2 separate regions of the Homo sapiens genome follow, and region 2 is linked to region 1. Evidence: fine-mapped expression QTL. Tissue or cell type: whole blood. Region 1 holds a variant in brackets; the other region holds the start of a gene. All regions are shown on one strand. Distances are between the middles of the regions. Region 1 overlaps CMTM7 (CKLF like MARVEL transmembrane domain containing 7). Region 2 holds the start of CMTM7 (CKLF like MARVEL transmembrane domain containing 7).

Region 1 (13,913 bases):
AGACTTCTGGCCTTGAGAACTGTGAGAGAATAGATTTCTGTTGTTCTAAGCCACCAAATCTGTAAGCTTGCTACAGTAGCCACAAGAAATGAATACAACCAATTAAATATTTTCCATTACAATCAGATGCTAAAAATCTTCAACATTGTAGACTGTAGACATTTAATATTTTCTCCTTTTAGAGGTGCTTTGCTCATTTCTAGGAATTAACTTTCGGAGAGGTGATGGCCACGCTGTCTGCCTCTCAGAATGGCAATGACATCTCATCCACTTTGAGTACATCTTTTTTCCTTGATAGCTTATTTAATGAGAGAAGCAGTCCTTGAATTTCTGCTGAGAAAAACGGAACAATAAAGACAGAAGAAAACATCAGAGAGTGGTTCTCAGATGGCAGGGTGGGGGCAAAAGATGGAAAGGACGTTCCAAAGAAGCATTGCTTCTAGCCTTCCACAGATGATGAATAAAGTATCCCCAGATTCCCCCAAACCATCAGAATGCCAAATAAATCTTACTGCATCCTAGTAGAATCTTTAAAGATGAGCTACTGCAGCCCAAAAACATATGTATTAAAGTGGTCAAATTAGCATTGCTTAATCTAGTACTTGTGAATTGGGTGCTATCTTTTTAGTGTTTGTAGAAGTATCAGATGATTTTAAGTCTCTTAATTATATATTTTTGTAACTTTTTTTTTTTTTGAGACAAAGTCTCGCTCTGTCGCCAGGCTGGAGTGCAGTGGTGCAATCTTGGCTCACTGCAACTTCCACCTCCCGGGTTCAAGCGGTTCTCTTGCCTCACCTCCTGAGTAGCTGGGACTACAGTCACGCGCCACCATGCCCAGCTAATTTTTTGTATTTTTAATAGAGGCGGGGTTTCTCCATGTTGACCAGGATGGTCTCCATCTCTTTCCCTCATGATACGCCCGCCTGGGCCTCCCAAAGTGCTGGGATTACAGGCATGAGCCACTGTGCCTGGGCCGTAACTTTTTATTTATAAATAATCCCAGGTTTACAAAAACTTTTGAAGAACAGGACAAAGAACTCCCCATATCCCCTTGCCCCAGGTTCTCCGTTTGTTACCATTTTACATTTGTTTGATCGTTTTCCATTTGTATGCATGCTATTATTTTTTTCTTGGAACCATTTGAGAGTGAGTTGCAGACATCATGCTCTTTTGTCCATGAGTGCTTCAGCATGCATTTTGTAAGAAGAAAGACCCTTTCTTACATAATTGCAGTACAGTTACTTAAATCAGGAAATTAATGATACAAATGCTATTAACTTATCTACAAGCCTTACTCAGATTTTGCCATTGACCCACTAATGTCCTTGGGTCTAGGATCCCATCCCAGATCATAAGGTGTATTCAGTTGTCACATCTCTAATTTCCTTCAATCTGGAACAGGTTTTCAGTCTTTCTTGTTCTTCATGACGTCAACATTTGTGGAGAGTCCAGGACACAGCTGTCCCTTCATTGGATATTAAAGTCAGTTTGGTGGGACCCTCTGATTCTCAGCATTTTGTAGCTACACTGGAGGCAGAAGACAAAGAAAGAAAAGAAATCATGTTTGGCATAACTTGTCTCAATTTGAATGCTTTTGTTTTCACAAAAGTCCCTTTTGCAAATGTCTTATCTGAAGTTAATAGTTAGTAGTTCAAGTTGAGCTTTGCTGGATGTCCTGTTCTTTTAAAAAGCCTTAGCTCAGATGTCACCTCCTTGGGATAGTGGCTAACTAGCAAGTCTTATTGTATGAATTTGATGTGAATCACCTCATTTAATCCTCACAATAGCCCTATCATTTAGGTACTCTTATTTTGCGTATTTTATAGTGAGGAAACAAAAACAAACCCAGGTCTAGGGTGCTCTGCTTCCCCTCTGGACTGCCCCCTCTCCTGCCTTAGGAGGGCCTTCGTCAGCCCCTCAGCTAAAGTAGTCCCCTGCACCACCCTGCTACCATCACTCTATCCTGTTTCCCGGTTCTGATTTCATTACAGCACTTTGCCAGCCAGAATCCCTTTGTTCACTTAATTACCTGTTTATGGTAGATCTTCTCTACCAAGACCTGAGCTGCAGAGGGGCAGCCACCTTTCTGTTCAGGTCACCACGGAGTGTCCAGTTCGTAAGGTGGTGCCTGGAACACAGGAAATACTCATCATCTTTTTTCAAATGAACACATGCATATTTTCTTTGACAAAGCCTTTGGTAATAGCACTCCTTTCCAAAGAGTCAGCATGGATGAAGTGCTTGAGAGACTTGGGTCTTCTCCAGAAGAGGAAATAATGCTGTGTCAGACACCTGCTGAGGGAGGGGGCTGGGGTGTGGGCCCAGCAGTGGAAAGAGCCCTTCTGCCAGGCCCAGAACAGGCCATGGGGCCTGGGGCACATATCTTCAAGCCTGCGGGCCAAGAAGCTGGGAAAAGTCACAGAGAGGCTAGGATGCCTAGCAAAGAGAGGCTAGGATTCCTGTCCTGGAGCAGCCCACTCCCACCCCCCACAGTTTGCGATAGAGATGCAGTTTTCGTAGTAGCTGTTAGCCTGTTGTGATAGCACCTTTCTTTTTTCTTTAGTTGAGTTGACAGGTTTCGACAGACTCACAATCAAAACAACAGAAGCAAACAGAGACAAGCAGAGGGATGACAGAAGTGTCTGTCAGCTCATCAAGCTCTCAGGGCAGGGTTTCTAATTTAAAGCAACACCAGGAAACACTGAATAGTGGGATTACTATATTGGATTAAAGGCTAAAAGAATCAAATGCCAGAAGTGGCAAGCTCAGTTTGTGATACCTTTCCTCACTCGAGTGTTAGCCATTTGGTGTGGCCCTTTGCCTGGCAGAGGCGCTACCTTAAGTCACTTCATCAGATGTTTATTGAATGGCTGCTCTGTCCCAGCTCTGTGTCAGCCGCAGGGGATACAGCTGTGAATGAGGCAGAGCCGGCTTCCCTGTCGCTGAAAATCAAGACCCTAAACAAGGATGGTATTTCATCACCTCGAAGGCACCATTGTTTTAGGCACTCCCTAAGAAACAAAGAAAAATAATAATTATGTGGTAACACAAATCTCTCTTATCGTTCAGGATTTTTGTCTTATGCTTATTGAAAGAACTCTTTTAGATTTAATTAAATATAAATTTTACATATTTTTGTGAATATATAAAAAGGAAAATAGGTGAAGAAAAATAAATTGGTTAAGATATCCCTAAAATTTTTTTACAGTCAGAGCCTTCCTCTTCTAAATCTTTTTATTTTTAGAATATTTCTACACAAGCTATTGTCCTCTATGCTATCAAGAGTGTGAGCCATGCAGCATTTCTCAGAAGAATCCACACAAAAACTAAAAGCCATCAGTGCTGGGTTTGTGCACTGGCTTTTGACTCCCACTTTGGGAATGTTGCTAAGTGACCCCCTGAGTCACTGTCCCCGCCATCAGTCCCATACCCTGGGGGTCAAGGTGCTCTACTCTTGTCTCTGAGATTTTCTTCCTCCTGCTGGCACCTATGACACACGTTTTGATGCTGGTGTGTCTGACCTTGCCACATGCATAGGCAGTGATAACTACACAACTGTTTTTCCAGTGGTCATTGAAACACCCCGACTTGGCCAGGCGCAGTGGCTCACGCCTCTAATCCCAACACTTTGGGAGGCCGAGGCAGGCGGATCATTTGAGGTCAGGAGTTCGAACGAAGCTCCAGGCTGAGACCTAATGCACGGGAAGGGGCAAGGCAGGAGGGAAAGGTGGAAGGGTGTCCTGGAGAAGAGAACAGTCTCTGCAAAGTCCCAGAGTTGGGAGAAAAAGTACAAGGTTTGCAATCTTCTTGGTCAGTTCATAAAGTAGGCTTTTTGGTAGTGGTGAAGTATGGAGGATCTGTTAGCCACAAAAATGTTAGTGGTTCCATTGGGCTTTGCCAACATCCGCACCATAGCTAACTGTCTCGTAGAAGCTGCTGGAGGAATTAATGATGCAGTGGGCATGTTAATATACCTAAATTAAAATATTCATTGCAGCCTGGGTGTGGTGGCTCACACCTGTAATCCCAGCACTTTGGGAGGCCGAGGCAGACAGATCACCTGAGGTCAGGAGTTTGAGACCATCCTGGCCAACATGGTGAAACCCCATCTCTACCAAAAATGCAAAAATATTAGCCGGGTATGGTGGCGCACGCCTCTAGTCCCAGCTACTCGGGAGGCTGAGGCAGGAGAATTGCTTGAACCCAGGAGGCAGAGGTTGCAGCGAGCTGAGATCATGCCACTGCACTCCAGCCTGGGCAACAGATTGAGACTGACACACACACACACACACACACACACACACACACACACACACACACACACACACACACACTGCATCATTAATTCCTCCAGCAGTTTTTTTCATCTGGGTCTTAAGTTGAAGGGATTTTATAGACCTAGCGTTTTTTTTTAAGTTTTTGAGATGTTTGTTACTACACAAATATGAATAGGGAAACATTAATATAATTAAATCTGAAAGTTATTTGAAACAACTAAATTCACCCATGCGCCCACCATTCCACAGTTTCTACAATGTTATATTTTGGCCCTTGTTTAAGAATATGTGTAAAGTTTGCAGGGCTGTTACCCTACTGACAATAATAGATTCTGCTTTGTTGCTTATTTTTCTATTACAAAATTTAATATTTGGTAATGTCCCTGTTGCTATAAAAGCTTCATAATTGCACATAATATGTACAATCATCTAAGTGGATATTTTTAAATTTATGTGACCACTCACTTTTAAACATGTAGGTTTGCTTTTGAGCTTTTAGCTACTATAAATGATATTACATTGAACATTTTCAGGGGTTGGCAAACTACAGCCCACAGACCAAATCTGGCCTGCCACCTGTTTTTGTAAATAAAGTTGTATTGGAACACAGCCAAACCCATTCATTCATGTATTACATATGGTCACTTTCACACTAGCACTGCAGAGTGGAGTTGCAATAAAGATTGTGTGGCCCGCAAAGCCTAAAATATGTCCTATTTGGTCATTTACCAAAAAGAAATGGCCAATCGCTGTTTTACGGTATGCAGTAGAGTTTTCTTTTGACTTAGATTATTTTCCTTAAGATAAATTCTGAGAGATGGATATTTATTCACAGGATATATAACTTAGTTTGTTGATTTCAAAATAACCTCTATTTGTAACATGATTATGACCTTAAAGACAGTGACATATCAGAACAAATGAATTAGCTGATTCATTGATACATTCATTTATTAACTGTTATAAGATTAGAGTGATTAGAAGATATTATTAACACACCTTTGGTCCATTTCATTTGTACTCAGAGGTAACTAATCTTCATCTCCATTATAACTCCTCTAATAGCACCCAGTTCTTTTCATTCACAGTGTTTCTCATAGTTTTAGATTTTTTTATTAGTGCAACACTAGCTGCTGTAACAAATAACTCTCAAATGTTACTGGTTTGACACGATAGCTTTCTCCCTCAGCCATTTAGGAACCCCAGCATGGGGGTTCCTGGTCAGTAGGCAGCTTTTTTCCTATGTGGCTATTCAAGTTTGGGCCAAGATTTTTCTATTCTTTTTAAACTACTTTTTTGGGGAAAGAGCCCACTTAAACAGTTGCAGTGGCCATACTGGTGTGTGCCCAAATATCCCCTTTATTGCTGAGGCATTCATCCGCCGCAGGTTCCAAGAATGTGGCCTGCTGAGTCCCTCCCCACAAATTGATGTCCACCAAAGGGACTCGCCTCACCCAAGATGATGCCTAACCTCTCCCTGGGGGCAGCCTGTATCCAGTGGTCAGTGGAGAGTCAGGAAGGCCTGGTCTGCTTGCTTCAACAGAGAAAACTCTGAAGAGCGGTCCTAGCTTCAGTGCTCCTCGGAGTATCAGCCAAGGCCTTTGTTATGACTGCTCAAATCCTCCCTCCACCTGGTCCTGTCTTGCTTACTCTCCCACTGTAATCTCTTGGAGAGCACTCCCCAGTTAACTTTTTGCATGCAAATCTCTTTCTCAGAGTCTATTTCCAGGGAATTCCACCACCCCAGGACCAAATGACCAAGCTACATTTTCTTGGTTCAGTTTTCATTCTCCACGTTCCACTGACGTTGAAAATTTGCACCTTCTTTACCGCTGTATTTCAGCACTGCGTTCACAGCTTCTGTTTGGTGCAAGTCTCTGCTCGTCCCCTCATCTTTGACATTTCTTACTAAGGCTCCTTTTATTGCCTCATTACTTTAGGAAGAGGTGAAGTACAAATTACCAAGATAATAAATATTCAAATTGCACAGACCATCTGCCCCTGAACAGATGTCCACTCTAAGTCAATGTCAATCTCCATCCCTGGGGCAAGGGGAGAGGTGAAGAAACTTTACCATTGAAGCTTCATGGGAGGAAAAGGGATGCTGGGGAAGTGTGGCTTCTCTTGAGTTTCTGATTCATACACAGGAAGAGATTCCTTCCAGAAAATTTAGCTAAGGAAGAGGAAATGATAACCCAAGAATGTTATGATATGGAGCCTGCCAATTCTTTACGACAACGGAAGTGCTGCAGGGACCCAGTGAGAGTTTTACTTTTGCATTTAGCTCTTGTGGGCAGAGCATGTGATGCATGCCAGGAACTGTGCGTAGTGCTTTTCAGGTATTGGAAGAGCTCTCTAAGTGGGGTACTATTTGTCACCTCCACTTTCCAGGTGGAAAACAGGCCCTGGGAGGTTACATAGCCTTTCCAGGTTACACAGCTAAGAGGCAATGGGAATTTGACCCCAGAACTGTTTGACTCCAAAGCCAAGCTCTTAATCTGTATTGTCTTGCCTCTCTTCTGTAGAGGCCAAGGTTGTCCACAGTCTAGCCCAGGGACCAGCCAAAGTACTTTAGCTGGGGATGGAAGTAAACCTGTTCAAAACGCAGATTCCTGGGCCCCAGCTCAGACCCACTGGATTAAAAACTCCTCTGGCTGACGAGATCACGCCACTGCACTCCAGCCTGGGTGACAGAGCAAGACTCTGTCTCAAAATAATAATAATAATAATAATAAACTTTGGCTGAGGGGCCCAGGGACCTGCATTTTAACGCATCCCCTTGTGGATACACTCTCTAAAGGATGAGAATGTCAAGTAGTGACTTTCTCACTGCCATACAGATCACAGGCCACCTTCATAACTTCCCTTGCCTTGTGTCAAGCAAACCAGCAGGGACCTGAGACCATCAGCACCTTTGTGACACCTGCAGGTCGTCTTCCACTGTCATGCTGCCTTTTCAGTAGGCCCTCCCGTTGGGATTAAGTACTTTCTTTCATGCTACTCTTCATCTCCTGATAAGGGAGGGAAACTGAGGCAGTGGAACTGCTGGATTCCTACTCCTCAGTGAAATCTTGGGTACATCACCTGCCTTCTCTATGCCTCAGTTCCCTCTTCCGTGAGATGGGGGTGATAATATTACCTGCTCAGGGTTACTGTGCAGATCTTCTCTGAAGTATTTAAGCTCTGAGTGAATGTTAGTTATTTTTTTATTACCTCCTTTCAGTAGTCTAGTGAGATCTTTAATCTTTTCTCCAGAAGTTAGCTGGGTCTGTTCTTGCTATTCCATATTCATAATATTTTCTACAAGGTCTTCATTTCCTTTTTCCCTTTGCACATCTCCAACTTGCCTCTGCAAATCTATGCTAGTCCCTTTGATAAGAATATTAGATTAGCACAGGTCTGTGTCTGCATGAGGAGAGAGCCCACTTGGTCTTTGTCCAAGGTTTCTCAGACGTTTCATTTTGTATTTAGCTGTCATCTGTAGAGCATGTCATACATGCCAGGCCTGTGTTTTTGACTTAGCATAGACATCAAGGTGATGAAGAAAGACTATTGGGTTGGCTCTTGGCTCTGCTGCCCACTACATGGGTAGGTAATCTTGGGTAAATCACGTCCCTTCTCTTGGTCTCAGTTTTCTCTTGTGAAGTAGGGGAAAAGTTTTTGAGATCAGCATTGTTCTAATTATGATATATATGTGCACATAAGTACTTTTTTGTGTTTTGTTTTGTTTTTGAGACAGAGTCTTGCTCTTGTAAACCAGGCTGGAGTGCAATGGTGCGATCTTGACTCACTGCAGCCTCCACCTCCCAGGTTCAAGCAATTCTGCCTCAGCCTCCTGAGTAGCTGGGATTACAGACGTGCGCCACCATCCGGGCTAATTTTTTTTTTTTTTTTTTTTTTTTTTTTTTTTTTTTGAGACGGAGTCTCGCTCTGTCCCCCAGGCCGGACTGCGGACTGACTGCAGTGGCGCAATCTCGGCTCACTGCAAGCTCCGCTTCCCGGGTTCACTCCATTCTCCTGCCTCAGCCTCCCGAGTAGCTGGGACTACAGGCGCCCGCCACCGCGCCCGGCTAATTTTTTGTATTTTTAGTAGAGACGGGGTTTCGCCTTGTTAGCCAGGATGGTCTTGATCTCCTGACCTCATGATCCAACCGCCTCGGCCTCCCAAAGTGCTGGGATTACAGGCGTGAGCCACCACGCCCAACCATATGTACTTGTTAAGAATGAATTGCTGGGCAAGCTCAAAAAAGCCTGGGCTCTGGTGTAGATGAACTGTGAGTGTTGGGGGCTGTGGTATTGCTTTAAGGTTTTTCTTTTGGTATTAAGAAATTCCAGGGCAGAGAAAGTCAGAGAAAGTCATTTCTATGGAAATGAAGTGAACTTTTTACAAAGTGTACTAAGGGCTGGGACCTCTGAATTTCATCTCTTCTTCACAATCTAACTGTCATTCCACAGCAGTGTCATTGTGTGGTTTCTCAGCAGATGTCTTTTTCTTTTAAGTTTTTTAAATAAGAGCATTATTGAGATAGAATTCACATACTATAGAAATCATCTATTCAAAGTGACAATTCAGAAGTTTTTAGTCTGTTCACAGAGTGTGTACCGTCATCACCACAATCAATTTCGGAACACTTAGAACAGTTCTGTGGGTTTTGACAAATGCATAGAGTTATAGATCCGTCACCACAGTGTGTACAGAACAGTTCCATCACCCTAAATTCCCTCATGCTGCCCCTTCATAGTCAATCCTTTCCCCACCTTGTAACTCCTGGCAACCATTGATCTGTCTTCCATCCCTATAGTTTTACTGTTTCCAGAATGTCGTATAAATGGAATAATATAACATGTAGCTTTGGGAGTGGCTTCTTTCACTTAGGAAAAGGGGTTTAAATTAATCCATGTTATCACTTGGATAATAAAAATATTCTTTCTATTACTGAGTAGTGTTCCATGATATGGATATGTGTGTGTTCACCAGTTGAAGGACATCTGTTTCCAGATTTTGGCGATTATGAATGAAGTTGCTATAAACATTCATTTACAGGTTTTTCTTGGGTGTATAAATGTAAGTTTCCATTTTTCTTAAGTAAATACCTATCTGTAGTTTTGTTGGGTCGTACGTTAAGTATATATTCAA[A/G]TGTATAAGAAACTGCAAAGTTGTTTTTTACAGTGGCTATACCATTTTGCATTCCCACAGCAGTGTATGAGAGTTCTTGTTGTTTACCACACTTGCCAGCATTTGATATTATCAGTATTTTCTAGTTTGGGTTTTGCTTAATTTTAGCTATCCAAATAGGTAGGTAATGATATCTTACTGTGGTTTGTTTTTGGTTTTTTTTTTGTTTGTTTATTTATTTTAGACAGGTTCTCACCTGGTGTCCAGGCTGAAGTGCAGTAGCATGATCTCAGCTCACTGCAACCTCCACCTTCTGGGTTCAAGCAATCCTCCCATCTCAGCCTCCTGAATAGCTGGGACTATAGGCGTGTAACACCACACCTAGCTAATTTTTGTATTTTTTGTAGAGACCAGGTTTCCCTGTGTTGCTAAGGCTGGTCTCGAACTCCTGGGCTTAAGAGCTCCACCTGCGTCAGCCTCCCAAAGTGCTGGGATTACAGTTGCGAGCCACCGCGCCTGTCCTTATTGTGGTTTTAATTTCCATTTCCCTAAAGACTATAATGTTGAACATCTTTTCATGTGCTTATTTGCCATCCACATAGCCTCTTTGGTGAAGTATCTATTCACATTTTTTGCCCATTTTTAAAAATAGGCTTGTTGGTTTTTTATTTTTAGGTTTTGAGTATTGTTCGTATATTCTGGATAAAGTTCTTTGTCAGAAATGGGATTTACAAAATGTTTCCACTGCTCTATATCTTGCCTTTTCTTTCTCTTAGTCTCTCGAAAGAGCAGGGCAAAAGTTAACTCTGATAAAGTCTAATTTATCAGTTTTTTTTCCTTATGGATTGTGTTTTCAGTATCTTATCTAAAAACTCTTTTCCTAATCCAAGTCACAAAGATTTTCTCCTACGTTTTCTTCCAGACGTTTTACAGTTTTATATTTTAGGTCTGTGATCCGTTTTGAATTAATTTTTGCATAAGGGTTAAGTATGGGCCAGGGGTCGTTGTTTTATATATGGATATCAAGTTTTTCTAGCACTACTTGTTGACAAGGATATCCTTTCTCCACTGAATTACTTTACACTTCTCTCAAAAGACCAGCTGATTATATTCATATGGGTCTATTTCTGGACTCTGTTTTGCTGCATTCGTCTATTTGTCTAAGCTTTCACCAGTACCACACTGTCTTGATTACTGTAACTTAATAGTAAATCTTGAAATTGGATAGTGCTCTTTTGCAAAGTTGTTTTTGGTTATTCTCATTCCTTGCCCTTTTCATATGAATTTTAGAATCAGTTTTCCAATATTACAAAAATAACAGTAATAAAGCCTATCACTGGGATTTGATTGAAATTGTGTTGAACCTGCATATCCATTTGGGGAGAATTGGCTCATTAATAATATCATGAATTAATAATATCTATGAACACGGTGAGCCCTTCCAATTATTTAGGTCTTTGATTTCTTTCACCAGTGTTCTATCATTTTCACCATATTGTAAAGTTAGATTTATACCTAATAAATATTTCCCTTTTTGCTGCTATTGTAAATAGTCCTCTCCTTTGTGTTTAATTTTTAACTTCAGTTGTTCATTGCTAAGATATTGAAATGCAGTTGATTTTTGTAAATTGGTTTTGTATCTCATGACATTACTAAAGTTATTTATTAGTTCTAAGGAGGTTTTTAGTAGATTCTTTGGGATTTTCTACATAGATCATTATGTTGTCTACCAATGAAGTAGTTTTGTTTCTTCCTTTTCAATCCATATGCCTCTATTTCTTTTTCTTACCTTATTGCAACTTCCAGCAGTATAAGAATGTGAGAAAAGACATCTTTTCCTTGTTCCCTGTGTTGGGGGAAAGCATGCAGTATCTCATCAAGTATCATGTTAGCTGTGGGTTGGTTTTTAGATGCCCTTTCTCAGTCAAGGAAGTTCCCTCCTATCCTTGCTTGCTGAAAGTTTTGTTTTGTTTTGTTTAATCATGACTGGATATTGAATTTTGTCAAATGCCGCTTTTTCTGTCTCAGTTGATACGAATATATGGCTTTTCTTGTTTTGTCTGTTCATAAGGCATATACATTTGAAACATTTGGAAGTACTGAACTACTCATGCATTCCTGTGATAAACCTTAGCTGTGGTACATTTGTATTTCTTATATATGTTGGATATGATATGCTAATATTTTATGGAGGGTTTTTGATAGCCTGGAGTTTCTCTGTAAGCTTGTTAATGACTCAACCCACTTTGCGTCCTTCCTTTTGAGATATTCATGTATTCATGGTCTAGTGTGGGTTATTCTGAATCCTGGTCTCTCTTTCCTCTCTGTGTGGTTGGTGTTCTTTTGGGTTTATCTGTTTCTCCTTTTTGCCTACATGTTAGAAAAACTTGAAGTTATGCAGCTCAATTCAGGAACAGGATGTAGGAAGAAGTATTTGAGTCCAGTAGCTAGATTCAAATTGATTTGCGTCACATTATTGAGGTCCTACCAAGTGCTGGGTCCCTGTTGTCACCTTAGAAGAACAGTTTATTTGTGTTTATCTGAGCAGTCTAGTTCTCCATTAGCAGGCACATGAGAGGAGGTATTGTTGAGGATGAACCTTTCGTCCATGTCTCTTTGTGGCCTCCCTGTTTCCTCCAGATGCATCCAGATCAGGGCAGAAGCAGAGCCTGCTTCATGGGGACTGAAAGGCCTTCTTTGTCTTTCCACCAGGAGGCTTTTGCAGTGGCAAGGAGGCCTGAGAATGACCCCGCAGGCCGGGTGAGGGGAAATGTAGGGAGTGGCCAGGTTCCAGCCTAACAGGTTATTTTTAAAAAGTGAAGCCCAATGAGGTGGGGAACTTTCTGAAGGGAGGTCTTTGTTTTCACTTGGCACTCAGATGACTCAAAAGTGAGAAAGCAAAGGAGAATGCAGGCAGCAGGGGAGGGCTGACTCTACGCCAGCCTTCTGAAATGACTTCAGCTGTACCTGGGCCTGCAGGTCACAATGATCATGCCTTTGAACTGGGGACACGGTTGAAAAGGCTGGAGGAGGAAGAAAGGGGCAAGGTGTCCACGCCATAGTCCCACTGTCTGCCTGACTGAAGGGCGGTTTACCACAGCTGGCTTTTTGTTCCCTAAAAAATGCAGCGGCCAGAGAGCAGGTGGGAGAGGCCCTCTCTGGGGAGTTGTTCCTCAGAACTGGGTCTGGGGGCAGGAGAGGGGGCCAGCTAATGGCCTGCAGAAGTGGCAAGGCCTGCTGCCTGCTTGCTTGACTCAGCGGTTTAGTTTATGGCAGAGTTTGCACAGACGGAATCGCTTGACCATGTTGTCAACAATCTGAGGCAGCCAAGCCAGCCAGGGAAGTTTTTTTGTTGGTCTCACCGGCTGTCTGGACCCTCCCACTGGAGGCGACCCTGCTCCCCACCTCACCGTGCAGCCTGGGTCCCTGGAGGCTCCCTGGGACATTCCTGCCACCTGCTGCCCTCCTCTCCCACCCAGCTCCTCTCCCTTTTCTTCTGGCCACTATTCTGATTTCAGTCCCCATTGCCTTGCTAGAACTGACACAGCCTCCTACAAACTGACTTCTGTGTCTTTTCTCTCCCATCTCCAGTCCACCTGCTACTAGATTCATTTTCCTGAAGAACAATTCTGCTGTGGCTCTTCTCTGCTCAATAACCTTCACTGGCTCCCCATCGCCCACCTAGCATATCTACTTCCTCAGCCTGGAATCTGATCCCCACCCCATCCCGCCAGCTTTGCTTCCCATCACACCTCTTCACATACCTGTGCAGTTTGCCTAACATGGACAACAACCCTCTTGTTCCCAAATATACTCTTGTGCTTTCCCACCCCTATGCCTTCTGTGGCTGTGTTCCCACTGCCAGAAGCCTCTGATTCCCCTTCTCTGTGTGTTGGAATGCTTTTGTGGAGTCCACACCAGGGCCATGTCTGCTCTTCATACGGGACATGCCTGACCTTCTCCTTCCTCTATTCCTCACAAATTGTAGCTCTCTGGTGGTATTTATCCCCTGTTTTGTTGTCGTTACTTGTGTCTGGATCTTAAGCTCCTTACCCTTTAGGACAGGGTCCGTGTCTAAGCTGTCCTCATATCTTGCTCATCTCCTGGTGACAACACACTGCACTTAGAGGAATCATCATTTTTGTGCTACTTTGTGCCAAGACCTCAAACATTATCCTATTTGTTCCTCCCAAGAAACTTCTGAAAGAAGTTTTAATACCTAACATTTGTTGAGCATTTACTGGAGCAGTACCAGGCTGTTCTAAATATTTTGCCTGAATTAGTTCATTTAATCCTTGTATTAACTCATTAACTCTTTGTAGTATATTTGATTATTATCCCTCATGCCAAAGATGAGGAAACTGAGGCCCAACGGGGTGAACTAGCCCCTACTGTCTGTGTTGAGTGACTGTCTGACCTGTGGGGGTTGCTAGCCATGCTTTATTGCTCCTGTTTGGCCTTCCTTCCTCTGATGGAAGGCAAGCCTTTGGCTAACACTCATACTTCCTTCCCCAGGCCCC
Region 2 (15,840 bases), 22 kb before region 1:
CCCTTGAAGATGGTCTTTGATGCTTATGGTTATGGAAATGGCAACGTACAGGAGTCCCTCAGCCCTCAGATAATGAAGCCTCATTGTTCGATACATAAGGACTTAGGAAAAATGATAAAATAGGTAACATTTACTACTATGAGCCAGATGCTACTCTAGACCGTTTCCATATGTCTTATCCCATTTAGATCTCGCAGTTACCCTGAGGGGTCATTTCTATTGTTGTTCCTCTTTACAGAGAAGGAAATGGAGGCTGAGAGAGGCTTGCCCAAGGTTGCACATCTAGCAAGTGATGGAACTAAGGGCCAAACCCAGGCAGTTTGGTTCCAGAGTCCTGCCTCTCAGCCACACAGCCAGGCAGCACAAAGACAAAGGTTTCAGGGTCCCACCTGGCGCTAAAGACCAGGTATCCTGGCTGGCCCCGCTGTGGTGAGTACATGCCGCTCTCCCTCTGCTGGGCCTCAGCCACTCTCTTCTGCTCTGCCTCTCCTTATTTCCTCTCATGGCCCAACCAGCCTCCTGGCTTCCACCTTCTCTCTATGTCCCAATTGCTAAACCCCTCTCAATGCCTCACATTCAAACTCCGCAGGACAGAGGATCATCAGTGGAGCTCCCACTCTTACTAGGCAAAGTTCCCTTATAAGGCCACTCCAAACACTACTGGCCAACCCACTGATGGGCTGCCCTTGGCTCAGGAGCCAGCCTGATGCAATAAATTTCCAATGGATATAAGGCAGCTGATTGGTGATTCTCAGAAGGACCTGAGAGTTTGACTGGTTTACGGAACCTAATAAACTTTTTAAAAATTCACTGGAGGCCAGGCGCGGTGGCTCACACCTGTAATCCCAGCACTTTGGGAGGCCGAGGCGGACGGATCACAAGGTCAGGAGATTGAGACCATCCTGGCTAACACGGTGAAACCCCGTCTCTACTAAAAATTCAAAAAATTAGCTGGGCATGGTGTCGGGTGCCTGTAGTCCCAGCTACTCAGGAGGCTGAGGCAGGAGAATGGCATGAACCCAGGAGGCGGAGCTTGCAGTGAGGCGAGATCGCGCCACTGCACTCCAGCTTGGGCGACAGAGTGAGACTCCATCTCAAAAATAAATAAATAAATAAATAAATAAATAAATAAATAAACAAACAAATAAAGAAATTCACTGGAAAAGGATTTTAAAGGCTGATATTGGAAGAGTTTCATGGACACCTGATGCCTTTGTCTGCCTGGCATAGCTCAGACTTCCTAACAAAATGCCATGGCCAGGTGGCTTAAACACCAGAAATTTATTTTCTCAGAGTTCTAGAGTCTGGGGAGTACAAGATCAAGGTGCTGATCGATTTGGTTCCTGTTGAGGGCTCTCTTCCTAGCTTGCAGAAAGCTACCTTCTCGTTGTATTCTCACATGGTGGAGAGAATGCCAGCAGGTTCTCTGGTGTCTTTTTTATAAGGACACCAATCCCCCCCTGAGGGCCCCACCCTCATGATCTCACCTAAGTCTAACTATTGCCCACAGGCCCCATCTCCAAATGTCATCACATTGGGCGTTAAGTCTTCAACTTTTAAATGATGGGGGGACACAAACATTCAGTGCATAACACTGCCTAATATTCACTCCGCTTTCTGATACTCGCACCCTGGTTTTCCTTTTGGGAACCACCCCTTCCTCACTCAGCTCCTGTGGTTCTACTGGGCTGAACCTATCCCACCCCCAGCTTCATGGGTAGGTAGAACTTGACCTGGCCACCAAAAATGTTCCACTCCTCTGGCCATAGTAATTCGTTGAAAGATGGAACCATGACCCATATTTGGACTAATGAGAGATAGTGCCTATTATGGACTGAATTGTGTGTCCTCCCTGCCCCAAATACATAGGTGGCAGCCTTACCCCCAAGTGTGACTGTATTTGGAGATGGACTCTTTGGGGAGATAATATGGTTAAATGAGGTCATAAGAGTGGGGCCAGAATCCAATAGGACTGGTGTCCCTTTAGGAAGAGACACCAGAGATCTCTCTCTCTCTTTCCATGTACACAGAGAAAAGGCCATGTGTGGACACAGCAAGAAGGTGGCCATCTAAAGTCATGAAGAGAGGCCTCACCAGAAACCAGCCCTGATGGCAACTGGATTTTGAACTTCTAGTCTCCAGAATTGTGAGAAGTGAATTCTTGTTGAGAAGCCACCCAGTATGTGATATTTTGTTATGGCAGCCTAAGACAGTACCAGAGCCACTGGAAAAGACAGGCTGAAATAACGAAGGCAGGATTATTGTGTAAGCCTGAGCTGTCAGAGCTCATGAGAGGGCCTGCCTGAAAAGCCAACACAGAGCAGAGTGAAGCCAGGAGATGGAGGTCCTGACTGTGCCTGAGGAGCACCTGGATCCAGCCATGCCTGAAGTGGGTGTATACCTCTGCATATCACAGTTACTCAAGCCAATGAATTATTTTGTTTTGCTTTTTATTAGTTTGTTTGTTTGTTTTTGAGACAAGGTCTCACTCTGTTGCCCAGGCTGGAGTGTAGTGGCACGATTATGGCTCACTGTAACATTGAACTCTTGGGCTCAAGTGATCTTCCCCCCGCTCAGCTTCTTAAGTTGCTTGGACTACACATCTGGCCAATTTTTTCATTTTTTGTAGAGATGGGGGTCTCACTATGCTGCCCAGGCTGGTCACAAAATCCTGGCCTCAAATGATCCTCCTGCCTCGGCCTTCCAAAATATTGGGATTATAGGCATGAGCCACCGTGCCAAGCCTATTTTGTTTTTTGTTTTGTTTTGTTTTTAAAGACAGGGTCTTGCTATGTTGCCCAGGCTGGCCTGGAACTTCAGGGCTCAAGAAATCTTCCTACCCCAGTCTCCTGAGTAGCTGGGACTACAGGCATGCACCACTGCTCCCAGCTTGAATGAACTCTTCTTTTTGCTTGATTTTAGTTTGTCTCATCAAAAGCACTGTGACTAATACAGAGTCAACTCTAATTTTATTACTTTTTTCATTATATCTGATCAGATATAACATCATAAACACACTGGTGAAGAAGAGTTATAGTCAGAGTACCACTCGAATTGAAGCTTTAAACTGTCAATAAGCCACCTGCAATCCCTCGGTGTAGAGAAAAGGAGAACTTGGACATCTTGATTTCTCACCAGGTATTCAGAGGTCACCTACCTGGTTGGTTCCCTCTTAGAGTGTGACATCTTTAAAGTGGGCTATGAAGCCCTTTGCCTAAGACCTTGCTTTCCCAAGGGGCAGCTATTCACATCTAGCAGACAACACACTAGTGTAGACATCTCAGTGCACTTGGCAAGCCTCTGAAGCCTCTTCTTGTAAGTCAGGCCAGCAATGGCCCTTGCACTGGCAAGCATCTTGCTCAAGCTCTTAAGTGATCATAATAAAGTGATTAACACAGAGTGCCCAGCACAGTGATTACTTCTGATTAGAGGTGGGTGGTGCATTAGTCAACACCAGGCAGAAAAGCCCAGCAATGTTTCTGAGCAGACTCAGGAAGAGATAGTTGTTCTCAAACTTGAGTATGCATCAGAATCACAGAATGATGGTGAAGGGGGGTGGGGAGTGAGGGTGGGGTTGGGAAGACTTGTTAAGACACACACTGCTGAGCCCTACCCCTAGAGTTTCTGATTCAGCAGGTCAGAGTGGGCCCCTAGAATCTGCATTTCTCACAAGTTCGCAGGTACTGCTGGTTGGGGGGCTATACACTGAAAATCACTGTTAGAAGACTGCTGAATTGGACAAAGGCCCCTCAAAGGAGAAATGATCCAGCACTTGGTTTTTCTGCTTCCCTGAAACCCTCATCTCAACAAAGATGCCCTGTTATCTCCACTGTGGGTCCTGAAGCCTTAGACAAGTACAGAAGTGAAATGTACATCTACATAAAAAAATGATACACAGTACTAACTTCATGCCTGTGGGTATAGAGCCAGAAATGTCACAGCACACCTGCATATCTATCACATTGTCACAGCAGCCCCTAGATGCAATTATTCCTGAATTACAGAGAAACAAATGGAGGTACCAGGCAGCTGTGACTGTTGTCTACAGAGAAGACACACGTGGAAGGCAATTTTTCTTGGTCATGAAAATTGTCAAATGTACATAAAGGTGAAATAAATAGTGTAATAAATCCCCAAATGTTTCAACTGCAGTGGACTCTGGCAATGACAGTGGTTCTCAAATTTGAGTGTGCATCAGAATCACCTAAGAGACTTGCCAAAACAGATATTGCATGGGTATCATCCACCAACAAGAATTATTAGGACTTTGCCACATCGAAAACTCTTCTGATGACAAGACAGCACTGGCAGGGAATAAACTCACAAAGATAGTTTTATGTTTCACTTTGCTTTGTTTTGTTCTTGAGGCAGGGTCTTGCTCTGTCACCCAGCCTGGAGTACAGTGTTGTAATCATGACTCACTGCAGCTTCAACCTCCCGGGCTCAAGCAATCCTCCCACCTCAGCCTCCTGAGTAGCTGGGACTACAGGCATGTGCCACCATGCCCAGTTAATTTTTGTATTTTTTTGTAGAGATGGGGTTTCTCCATGTTGCCCTTGCTGGTGTCAAACTTGGGCTTGTGAGCTTGATTTTGGGATTACAGACATGAGCCACCGTGCCCAGCCAGATTTTTTGATGTTATCTCCAAATGAATAAATGTAAGTATGGCCACAGGGACACTGCTCAAAAGGAACATGATAACATACCTCGTTTTGGTAGTCCCGTTTGGGCCTGTCTTCATTTTTATGTTTTTTTCCTTTTCTTTTTCTTTTTCTTTTTTTAAGAGACAGTGTCTCACTCTGTCACCCAGACAAGAGTGCGGTGGCAAGATCATAGCTCACTGCAATCTCGGACTCCTGGCCTCCAGGGATCTTCATGCCTTGACTTCCCAAAGTGCTGGGATTATAGGTGTGAGCCACCACGCCTGGCCTCTTCATTTTTAAAACAACCCAAAAGGGATACAGAATAGAATGTCACTTGGATAGCTGTTTGACAGCTTTTTCTTTTTCTTGTCTTTTTTTTTTTTTTTAATTGAGACAAGGTCTTGCTCTGTGGCCCAGGCTGGAGTGCAATGCCACTGTCATGGCTCACTGCAGCCTCAACCTCCTGGGCTCCAAGGCTCCTCCAGACTCAGCCTCCTGAACAGGCATGTGCCACTGCACCCAGCTAATTTATTTATTTATTTATTTTTATTTTTATTTTTATTTTGAGACAGAGTCTCGCTCTGTCGCCCAGGCTCGAATGCAGTGGCGCAAGCTCTGCTCACTGCAAGCTCCGCCTCCCGGGTTCACGCCATTCTCAGCATCCCGAGTAGCTGTGACTGCAGGCGCCCGCCACCACGCCCAGCTAATTTTTTGTATTTTTAGTAGAGACGGGGTTTCACCGTGTTAGCCAGAATGGTCTCGATCTCCTGACCTCGTGATCCGCCCGCCTCGGCCTCCCAAAGTGCTGGAATTACAGGCGTGAGCCACCGCGCCCGGCCCAGCTAATTTATTTTTATTTTTTGTTTTTTGTAGAAATGAGGTCTGGCCATGTTCCCCAGGCTGACAGCTTCTAACAGAAGCAAACATATGCTCCCCTTGTAACCAGTGCGTTCACTTGCAGATATTTGTCCCAGAGAAATGAGAGTTTGTATCCACCAAAAAAACGTGTACCATAATAGTGACTATAGCCAGAAAAGAGATGAGGGAGGGGGGAAAGGCCGGAAGGAGGGAAGGAGGCAGGCAAGCAGGTAGGAAGGAAGCAAGCTTGGTGTCCATCAACTGGGTAAACGTTTAAAAAATACGGTATCTTTGCACAGTGGAGTACTACTCAGCAATAAAAAGGAAGGAACTGATATGAACTACTTATATTCCCAACAGGATGGATCTTCTAATTTGTTATGTTGAAGGAGAATATTCTGTATTACTTCAAGTTTATGAAGTCCAAGAACAGGCAAAATGAACCTACAGTGACAGAAAGCAGAATACACTGTAGTGGTTGCCTGAGGCTGGATAAGGATGGGGCCAGGGAAGGAAGGTAGGTCAGGAAGGCCCACCACGGAACTTTCTGGGGTGATGGGCACGTTCTATTTGTTGATCTGGGCGACGGTTACACAGGTGTACACATATATAAAAATTAGTGGAGCTGAACACGTAAGGTCTGGGCATCACACTTTATGTAAGTTAAACTTCAGTAAAGTGCTCTCAGCACACATCCGCAGCCGCACCCACACAAAATCCCAGGAGGCTCAGTACCAGCTGTGGTCCGGGCCTTGCCCACCTCGGAGAGGCCACGACCCAAGGCATCCGGTTTCCTCTCGCTCCAGTCTAACTTCCGCGCATCTACGAGGGCCGGGACTGCCGCTACCTTTCTGGAAGGCGCCGGCCGGCCAGTCACCGGAGGGATCCCGCCAGAGGCGGCTCCGCGTCTCCAGCAGCGGGGCAGGGACCCGGGCGCCCCGCCCTCGCCAGCGCCCGCCCCCGCCCGCCCCCGGCCCGCCCTCTGTATCTGGCCCCTGGGCAGCTGCCCGGGGAGGCGGCCAGCGAGCTGGGGCCGCGCAATGTCGCACGGAGCCGGGCTCGTCCGCACCACGTGCAGCAGCGGCAGCGCGCTCGGACCCGGGGCCGGCGCGGCCCAGCCCAGCGCGAGCCCCTTGGAGGGGCTGCTGGACCTCAGCTACCCCCGCACCCACGCGGCCCTGCTGAAAGTGGCGCAAATGGTAAGTGAGCGCGGGGCGCGAGGCCGAGGTTCTACAGGGCGTCCCGGGAAAGCAGGGGTCCGGGAGCGGACGCGCCGGGCGTCTGGACCCGGCCGGAGCCCAGGGAGCATCGCGCAGCGGGCGGGGCACCGCGTCGCTAAAGTTCGCGGCAGGCTTCCTCCGGGAAAGTTGCTGCCGCAGCCCCCGCGCTGGAGCTCAGTCCCCAGAGCCGCCCCGGCCCTTGCTCCCGCGGACCCAGGTCGCCAGGGTCGCAAGTTTCTCCGGCCACCCCCCTGCGAAGCCTGACCCGCCTACTGACTGAAACCACGGGCAAAGTTCCTTTTCGTCTTTCTTCCTCTTCTCTGGGCCGCGCCGCTTCGAACCCGAGCCGGGGGTGGAAGAGTCGCCCAGGCGGCGGCGCTGAGGGAGCGAAACCCGACCTCTTCCCCGTCCACGGCCTCCTCTTTCCTCCGAACCCAGCGCGGCAGGGCTTCCCTGCTCTGTGTGCAGTTTCGCTCGAAGGAGGAGGTCAGAGGGTCTTGTGTTCCATAGTGGGGAAAAAGAACTGGGACCGTTGAGACGGCCGTCCTGGTCCCCTGCGCCCTCAAGTTCCGAGGGAGGGCCCGGGTCTCAGGGGGCTCTGGAGGGCAGGGGGTCAGTTGGGAAAGGCCTGTTGTCAGGGGCTGGTACTCATGTAGGGGAGCCAGACTGTTGAATGGGAGTCACCCGTGGAGCCAGGCAGGATGAGTGTCTGGGCTTGGATTGTGACCAACTCAGCACAAGGGCCTCCTACCAGGGCAGACGTTGCCTGGCCGATTCTCTTGTTCCCCACTCTTTTCTTTTCTCCCCTCCCGTTTTTTTCTTCTTTAAAAGTTTGTAATCTGAAACAACTTTTCCGTTTGTATGATGTGTTTTGAAACTGGGTTGGGCTGTTTGTGAGTCTCCACCATTGTAATGTTTGCACCAAGAACGGTGGGGAGGGGAGCGGTAAGTTTCAAAAAGAGGTGTGGGGAAAGGAGTGTGGGGCTGGACAAGGTCACACACCCAGAAGCTGGGGCCTGCTAAGGTGGCCTGGCCCCAGGGGGTTGGGCACAGGACGTCTGTGCATCTATAGCACTGCCATTCCAGACACTGAGTGTGCATGAGGTGGCCCTCATGTCTTGCTTGGGCCAGACCTAAAGAGAAGGGGCGCTGAGTTCCTGCCTCCCTAAGAACGGTGTCTAGATAGACCAAAAACTAGGAAGAGCCATTTCAGCAACGTACAAAAAAATCTGGTGCTGAGCATTGTTGGGTTTGAGCAGGGCATTTTTTGGCCCAGGCTAAGAGATTTGATCAGCCAAATAGAAGAGACCAGCCCATCTCACCATCCTTAAAAGATGGGCTGGGGTGAGACATATCCTACCTGAGCATTGGAAGGGATGAGTTTGGTAGACAGAGAATGGGATCAGAAGCCTCCATCTTGGCCCCTGAGTTTGCTGGACAAAGATATTGTGGGATGAAAAGTCTTCTTGTTGGTCTATGAGTTTGGTACACAAACATAATGGAGATGAAACCTCGGCAACATAGCGAGACCCCATCTCTACAAAAAAAATTTTAAAACCTTGTGTGGTTGGCATGGGCCTCTAGTCCCAGTTACTTGGGAGGCTGAGGTGAGAGGATTGATTGAACTGAGAAGGTCAGTGAACTGTGCCACTGCACTAGTCTGCGTGACGGAGGGAGGCCTGTCTCAAAAAAAAAAAAAAAAAAAGGTACAAAGAAAAGGTAATGGAGATGAGAAGCCTTCATGTGGTCCATGATTTTGATGAATAAAGATACTGGGAGATGAGAAATCTCCATCTCATCTTAAGCTCCTCAGCTAGCCTCTGGCCTGTGGTCCTTGGGCCAATTTGCAAGTGGCAAGAGTGGGGCCTGTTGTTCCAAAAAAGAGAACAAAGACTTGAATAATTTCTTTATCTGGTTGCTTATTCTCTATGTGCTCCTCTTAAAACCATGCTGAGGAGTCTTACACCTGCCCTGGAGGATTCCCCATCACTGCTGCAGGCTTGTTTGATCAGACCCTCTGGGAGCAAAGTTGCCCTTGCAGGATGGCTGTATTAGTCCTAGTTAGGGCTATCTACTTGGGCCTCTTATCTAACTCCTCCCTATTTTCCCACTTCTCCTCTTTTCTAAGACTCTGCTTGGGCATTTGAGGTTCATTTGTCTTCTTTGCTGGAAAATGCTTGTTTAGCCAAGTTTTAACATTGGGGAAGGGCAGAAGCAGCTAAATTAATGCCACCCATTGGGGCTTTCTTTCTATGGGTCTCTCATTTTGACCATCAGTTTCTCAGTTTCATACTGAACAGGTTGACCCTTTTGTCCTCAGCTTCTCATGAAATGTTTTCATCATGATCTGATCAATAGATCTGCCAACACGTTGTCTTAAGAAATCATTGCAAAGGCTGTTCCACTGGAGAATGACTTCCCTTGTCTTGGCCTCTTCTGGGTCCACCATTACTAGAAAATGAGTTTCTGAGTGAATGTGTGTACTTGACATGTCATTTATACATGTGTAATTTTTATAATCCTCTGGCCATGATAATTCAGTTTCTTTGGTCTTCCTTTTTGGAGTAGAGACACAGTCACAGGTTTTGACTTTTGACTTTAAAGCACTCTTTTTTTTCTTTCTTTCTTGAGAGGGAGTCTTGCTCTGTCACCAGGCTGGAGTGCAGTGGAACGATCTCAGCTCACTGCAACCTCTGCCTCCCGAGTTCAATCAAATCTCCTGTCTCAGCCTCACGAGTAGCTGGGACTACAGGCACGTGCCACCACACCCAGCTAATTTTTGTATTTTTAGTAGAGATGGGGTTTCACCATGTTGGCCAGGATGGTCTTGATCTCTTGACCTCATGATCCGCCCCCGCCTCTGCCTCCCAAAGCGCTGGTATTACAGGTGTGAGCTGCCGCGCTCGGCTAAATGACTTTTTTTTTTTTGAGCGAGACAGAGAGGGTCTTGCTCTGTCACCCAGGCTGGAGGACAGTGGTGTTATCATGGCTTACTGCAGCCTTAACCTCCTGGGCTCGGCGATTGTCCCACCTCAGCCTCCCGAGTAGCTGGGACTATAGGCACCCACCACGATGCCCAGCTAAATTTTGTATTTTTTGATACAGACGGGGTTTTGCTATGTTGCCCAGACTGGTCTTGAACTTAGAGATTCAAGGGATCTGTCCACCTCGGCCTCCCCAAGTGCTGGGATTACAGGTGAGCCACTGCGCCTGCATGAGACTCTTTTTTTTAATAGCTATTTTTTTTTAGCCCTATTATTGTTCTAGTAATTACATACTATATACCATGTGTGTATAATCTCATTAAATGTTTCTAAGAATCCAGTGAAGTAACATGTTTGATAGATAAGGAAACGGGCTAAAGAGTTAAAGAGACACTAAAGTCACACAGCTCTTAGCAGTAGTGGTGGAACCGATCCAGGCCTAATGGCCTGATCTCCAAAACTCATAACTCTGGCAGAGTTGTTGCTTGTTAATAGTTCTAGGGATATAAAAGCCACAGTGAGATAACACTTCACACCCACGGAGATGACAACAATAGAAAACAACAAGTGATGAAGATGTGGAGGATGTGAAGAAATTGGAACTCTGATACAGTGCTGATGAGAATGCAAAATGGTACAGCCACTTTGGGAAACTGTGCAGTTTCTCAAAAGTTACCATGTGACCCAGCAATTCTACTCCCAGCTCTACCCAAGAAAATGAAAACAGATGTCCACATGAAGACTTACACATTCATATGTGTTCATAACAGCATTATTCATAATAACCAGAAAATGAAAACAACACAGTTGCCCATCAAATGATGAATGTATAAACAGCAACTAAAACTAAGTGCTACATTCATACAATTGAATATTATTCAGTCATAAAAAGGGAGAATGAAGTACTGATGCGTGTAACCATATAGATAACCATGAAAACACTAAGCTGTGAAAAAAAGCCAACCACAAAAGACCACATTATATGATTCCATTTATATGAAATGTCCAGAATAGGCAAATGCGTAGACACAAAAATAGATTAGTGGTTGCCTAGGTCAGGGAGCAGGGGTTGAAAGGAAATGGGACGTGACTGCTGTAAGGGGTATGGGGTTTCTTTAGGGGGTGATGAAAATGTTCAAAAAATTGGTGATGGTGCCAGGTGCGGTGGGTCATGCCTGTAATCCCAGCACTTTGGGAGGCTGAGGTGGGTGGATCACCTGAGGTCAGGAGTTCGAGACCAGCCTGGCCAATATGGTGAAGCCCTGTCTCTACTAAAAAATACAAAAATTAGCTGGATGTGGTGGCAGGTGCCTGTAATCCCAGCTACTGGGGAAGCTGAGGCAGGAGAATTGCTTGAATCCAGGAGGCAGAGGTTGCAGTGAGCTGAGATTGCGTGACTGTACTCTAACCTGGGTGACACAGCGAGACTCCGTCACAAAAACAACAACAACAACAACAAAATTGGTGATGGTGATGTTGCACAACTCTGTGAATATATTAAAAACCACCGAGATTTATACTTTAAATAAGTAACTGGTTGGTATGTAATTATGTAAGTAGACCTGTGGATGAGTGTGAGGGGGCAAGGTGCTCTGCATGCAGCCACTGGGTGTGGGGAGGCTACAGCTACACTTCAGGAAATCCCTGTGGTGTTCCCACCACATCCACTCCTAGAAGAAGGAGTGTCCCCTGCAGGAGTCACAAAAGCTGGGCTGAAAGGCATCCCCTGAGTGCCTGAAGGGTCTGAGCTGAAAGGGATGCCCTGGGGTCTGAAGGGGTCTAGATATCCTTGCTGTGGGATTAAGGAGACCCCAGGATGGGGCTTGTGGCCCTACCAACACGTCCTATCTATTTGTTCATTCAGCAGACATTTATAACTGCCACATTCATCTCCATTTGTGCAGAATCAGATGACTGTGACAAAGTTCTTGCCCTCAAGTAATCTGTGGTTCAGCTTGTCATGGGAAGAGGGGTCTTGTCCCAGACCCCAAGAGACAGTTCTTGGATCTCGTGCAGAAAAAACTTCAGGGCAAGTTGTAGAGTATAGTGAAGTCAAAGTAGTTTACTAGACGCCACTCAATTACAGAGTAGAGACTCTTCAGAAAGCAAGAGGAGGAACGCACCCATTGCAAATACAATGCTTGCTTATATAGGTTATTAAAAATAGTGTACTTTATTACAAAAGCTTGCGATCAGCTTGTGACAAGCTATTAATATTGTTACTTTCCTATGTGATTATTGATTTTAGCAAGAACTTATGAGTGTACCATTATTTTAAAAGCAGAACCTATTCTTAAACTAAGAATACTTTTTCTTCTTGAAGAACTGGGACATTTCCGTAAGTTCTGGGTCTTTATTTAGTTAGTTAATATTATTAACTCGGGCCGGGTGTGGTGGCTCACGCCTGTAATCCCAGCACTTTGGGAGGCTGAGGTGGGCGGATCACGAGGTCAGGAGATCGAGACCATCCTGGCTAACATGGTGAAACCCCATCTCTACTAAAAATACAAAATATTAGCCAGGCGTGGTGGCACACGCCTGTAGTCCCAGCTACTCGGGAGGCTGAGGCAGGGGAATCTCTTGAACCCGGGAGGCAGAGGTTGCGGTGAGCCGAGATCGCAGCATTGCACTCCAGCCTGGCAACAAAGTGAGACTCTGTCTCAAAAAAAAAAAAAAATTATTAACTCATTCCCTCAACCATAAACATCATGTGACCAAGACTGCCCAACCCCCTGGGAATGTAATCCAGCAGATTTGGCTTTCTCTCGGCCTTTATTCAAGATGGAGTCACTCTGGTTAGGATGCCTCTGACAAGCTGAGGGGATGAACAAGTACCAAAATTGGCTGCTCAGGAAGGTAAACGTTCTGATAGTTGCCCACCTTATGGAAGAGGATCAGAGGGCAAAGGTGATATTTAAATTGCATCTTGACAGATGAGTGTAAGTTTTCAGGTTGGGAGTGGCTCATTTACCCCTTTGGTGCCTTTATTCAATATATGTTTAAGTTAGAGATAAGTGGTATGTTAGGGTTGGGAAGGAAAAAGATGTAGCAAGAAATGAGCCAGAATTGGGGTAATTATCTTAATCTTCCCACCCCAGACATTTAGAAATGGGTGCCATCTTATCCACTGAGCATCTGCTATGCTGTTAATCTTACGCTATGTGAAATACAGCTATTAACAGGATAGACTCTTTCTGCCTGTGCAGAAAAACAGACTGTGACGTTTACATAACCATAACATGGACAGAGAATCAGAATGTATTTCACAAGCGGCAATGATGGAAATCTAAATATCTTCTGGGAGGTTCATTTATTTATTTGGCAAATATTTGTTGATCACCTACTGTGATCAGCTAACTAGTAGGTGATCACGACTGTGTGCTAGGGAACTGTGGAAAGAAGACAGATGAGCCCCTGCCTCTTTATACTCAAATAGAGAAAATAAACATTAATCAAAATGGTTATGAATATGTAATTACAAACAGGTTCGAAATTATGAAGGAGAAGTACTCAGTGGTATAGAGCATATACTAGGGAGTGTGACCTTTTGGGGATTAGGAAGGGTGTTTCTGAGGAAGGGACATCTGATGTGAGCATGAGGAAATTGCATCACAAGCAGAAGAAAGAGCGTTGGCCGGCGCAGTGGCTCATGCCTGTAATCTCAGCAGTTTGGGAGGCCGAGGCGGGCGGATGGCTTGAGCCCAGGAGTTTGAGACCATCCTGGGCAACATGGTGAAACCCGGTCTCTACAAAAAAATACAAAAATTAGATGGGTGTGGTAGCACGTGCCTGTAGTCCCAGCTACTCGGGAGGTTGAGATGGGAGGATCTCTTGGAGGTCTAGGCTGCAGTGAGTGGTGATCGCCACGGCACTCCATACAGCCTAGGTGACAGAACAAGACCCTGTCCTCCCATCCCCCCAAAAAGAAAAGAAAGAGCACGGACCCTGGCTGTTAGTGGAGGGAGGAGTATCTCTAGGGCTGGAGGGGAGAGAACAGGGTGGGAGTATTGGGGATGAGACTGGAGGTATGCAGGGACCAGACTCCAGGGTCTGCCAAATCTTGGTGAATATATAGTCCTTAGTCTAAGAAAAATCAGCAAAGCATCATATCAACTCACCATTCATGAGGTGACTCTTAACTAGGGGCTGTACCGCCCCCTAGGGGTTATTTTGGAATTTTATGGAACCTTTTGTTTTTTTTTTTTTTTGGTTGTCACAGGGATTAGGGTTATATTACATATACATCTTATTCATTTCAGAATAGTAATGCAAACTGGAATTTTGACAGTGCAATTTTGACAGTGCAAAATACTTTATATCCTAAAAGGATGTTTTGTCTGAAATAAGATTGAAGGAGCCTTCCCAGACTGGGTGCTGGGGGGAGTACACTAAGGTTTCTTGGCAGGAGAGCGGGTCCTGGAGACCCTCTAAGAGGCCTGGGCAATTCCAGGCTTCACTTTGAGAATTCACAGGTTAGGTGCCAAGTGGAATTCAGCTGTGGGGGATGTCAGCCTCTGGTCTAGCTGTGAATAGACCTGTTAGCACAGAATAGCCCAGCATCATCCAGAAGGGCCCATCCCTTTATGTTCTGCTTTAGATGTGTATGGCGGAGGGCGAGGAGGGGGTCTAGTTTGGTTCCCAAGTGCAGTCTGCACACCCATGTCCTACTTCCTGGAAGTTGGAGAGTAAAAAGCAGCAAAGAACCTCACTGCCAAGATTCTTTGACCTCAGCCCATTCCTGACAAGAAACTACTGTCAGTGACCAAACAAATGCAAAAATAAAATATAATAAAATAAGTTATTGGCTTTATTCCTAACAAAAGTAATACTTGTTCATTGTGGAAACTTTGGGGAGCACAAGAAGAAAATAGACTCACCCACTCCCTCTTCCCCAAGATTAAAAAGTAAAACTAAAGTATTTTATAGTAGATACACATAATTTTGGTGGTGGTTTGTTTTTCTTTTTTAATTGAGACAGAGTCTCAGTTGCCCAGGTTGGAGTGCAGTGGTGCGGTTTCAGCTCACTGCAACCTCTGCCTCCCAGGACCAAGCGATTTTCCTGCCTTAGCCTCCCAAGTAGCTGGGATTACAGCCATGTGCCACCACACCCGGCTAATTTTTGTATTTTTAGTAGAGACGGGGTTTCTCCATGTTGGCCAGGCTGGTCTCAAACCCCTGACCTCAGGTGATCCACCTGCCTTGGCCTCGCAAAGTGCTAGGATTACAGGCGGGAGCCACCTTGCCCGGCTGGTGGTGTTTTTCTTTAAACAAAACTAGGATGATTCTATACATATTTTGTAAATGCTTTTCTTTTTTTTTCTTCTTCTTCTTTTTTTTTTTTTTTTGAGGTGGAGTCTCACTCTGTTGCCCAGGCTGGAGTGCAGTGGCGCGGGCTCACTGCAACCTCCACCTCCCGGGTTCAAGTGATTCCCCTGCCTTAGCCTCCCGAGTAGCTGGGACTACAGATATGTGCCACCATGCCCAGCTAATTATTGTATTTTTAGTAGAGACGGGGTTTCACCGTGTTAGCCAGGATGGTCTTAATCTCCTGACTTCGTGATCCACCTGCCTCGGCCTCCCAAAGTGCTGGGATTACAGGTGTGACCCACCATGCCTGGCTGTAAATGCTTTTCTTGCTGTTTGTTTAGTATGTGGTGCATTTTGTTCGTCTGCAGTTTGGTTTCTAACAGTGCTGTCATAGCCAGTCATGGAGGTACCCTGGTTGTGTGTACCATGGTACACTGTGGCTCTGGGAGCTTCCAGTTCTACCTGCATACAAAGGAGGCTGTGATGAACCTCCATGTAGAGAATCCTGGTGTACAAATCTGTAAATACTTCTTCAGGATAATTGGCACTGACCTTTTCCAGAGAGAGAAATGAAGTGTCTCTTGCCCTTCTTAGGTGGCTGGCATAAAACAATTCTCTAGACTTTTTAACATCTAGAAATTAATGAGTGCCCCTTTATCATCCAAGAGTTTCAAGGAGCCAAGTGTGATAGTAATAGTATTTAAGCTGTAATCATATTTTTGGTGTCTGATGATTTAGAAAAGGAACAGTGACAGACAGACTAGAAAATTCAAAAATGCTTTTAAATGCTCTTGTATTTAAGTGATGGCCACAGTATCTGCATATATT

What was found.
Region 2: it holds the start of CMTM7, and the variant in region 1 is fine-mapped to the expression of CMTM7 in whole blood (TOPMed, PIP above 0.99).

What each region holds. Positions count from the first base shown.
Region 1 is chr3:32,408,207-32,422,119 of GRCh38, forward strand. The region is part of intron 1 of CMTM7 (CKLF like MARVEL transmembrane domain containing 7); the gene reads left to right. Among named protein-coding and RNA genes, the nearest start is that of CMTM7, 23 kb to the left of the region's middle. RefSeq lists enhancers at 11,434-12,633, 11,865-11,924, 11,985-12,054, 12,145-12,224. The variant A/G (reference allele first, on the strand shown) is at 9,415.
Region 2 is chr3:32,385,366-32,401,205 of GRCh38, forward strand. CMTM7 (CKLF like MARVEL transmembrane domain containing 7) reads left to right here and starts at 6,488. Exons shown (of 5, transcript NM_138410.4): 1 at 6,488-6,700. The coding sequence starts at 6,542. RefSeq lists an enhancer at 15,616-15,840.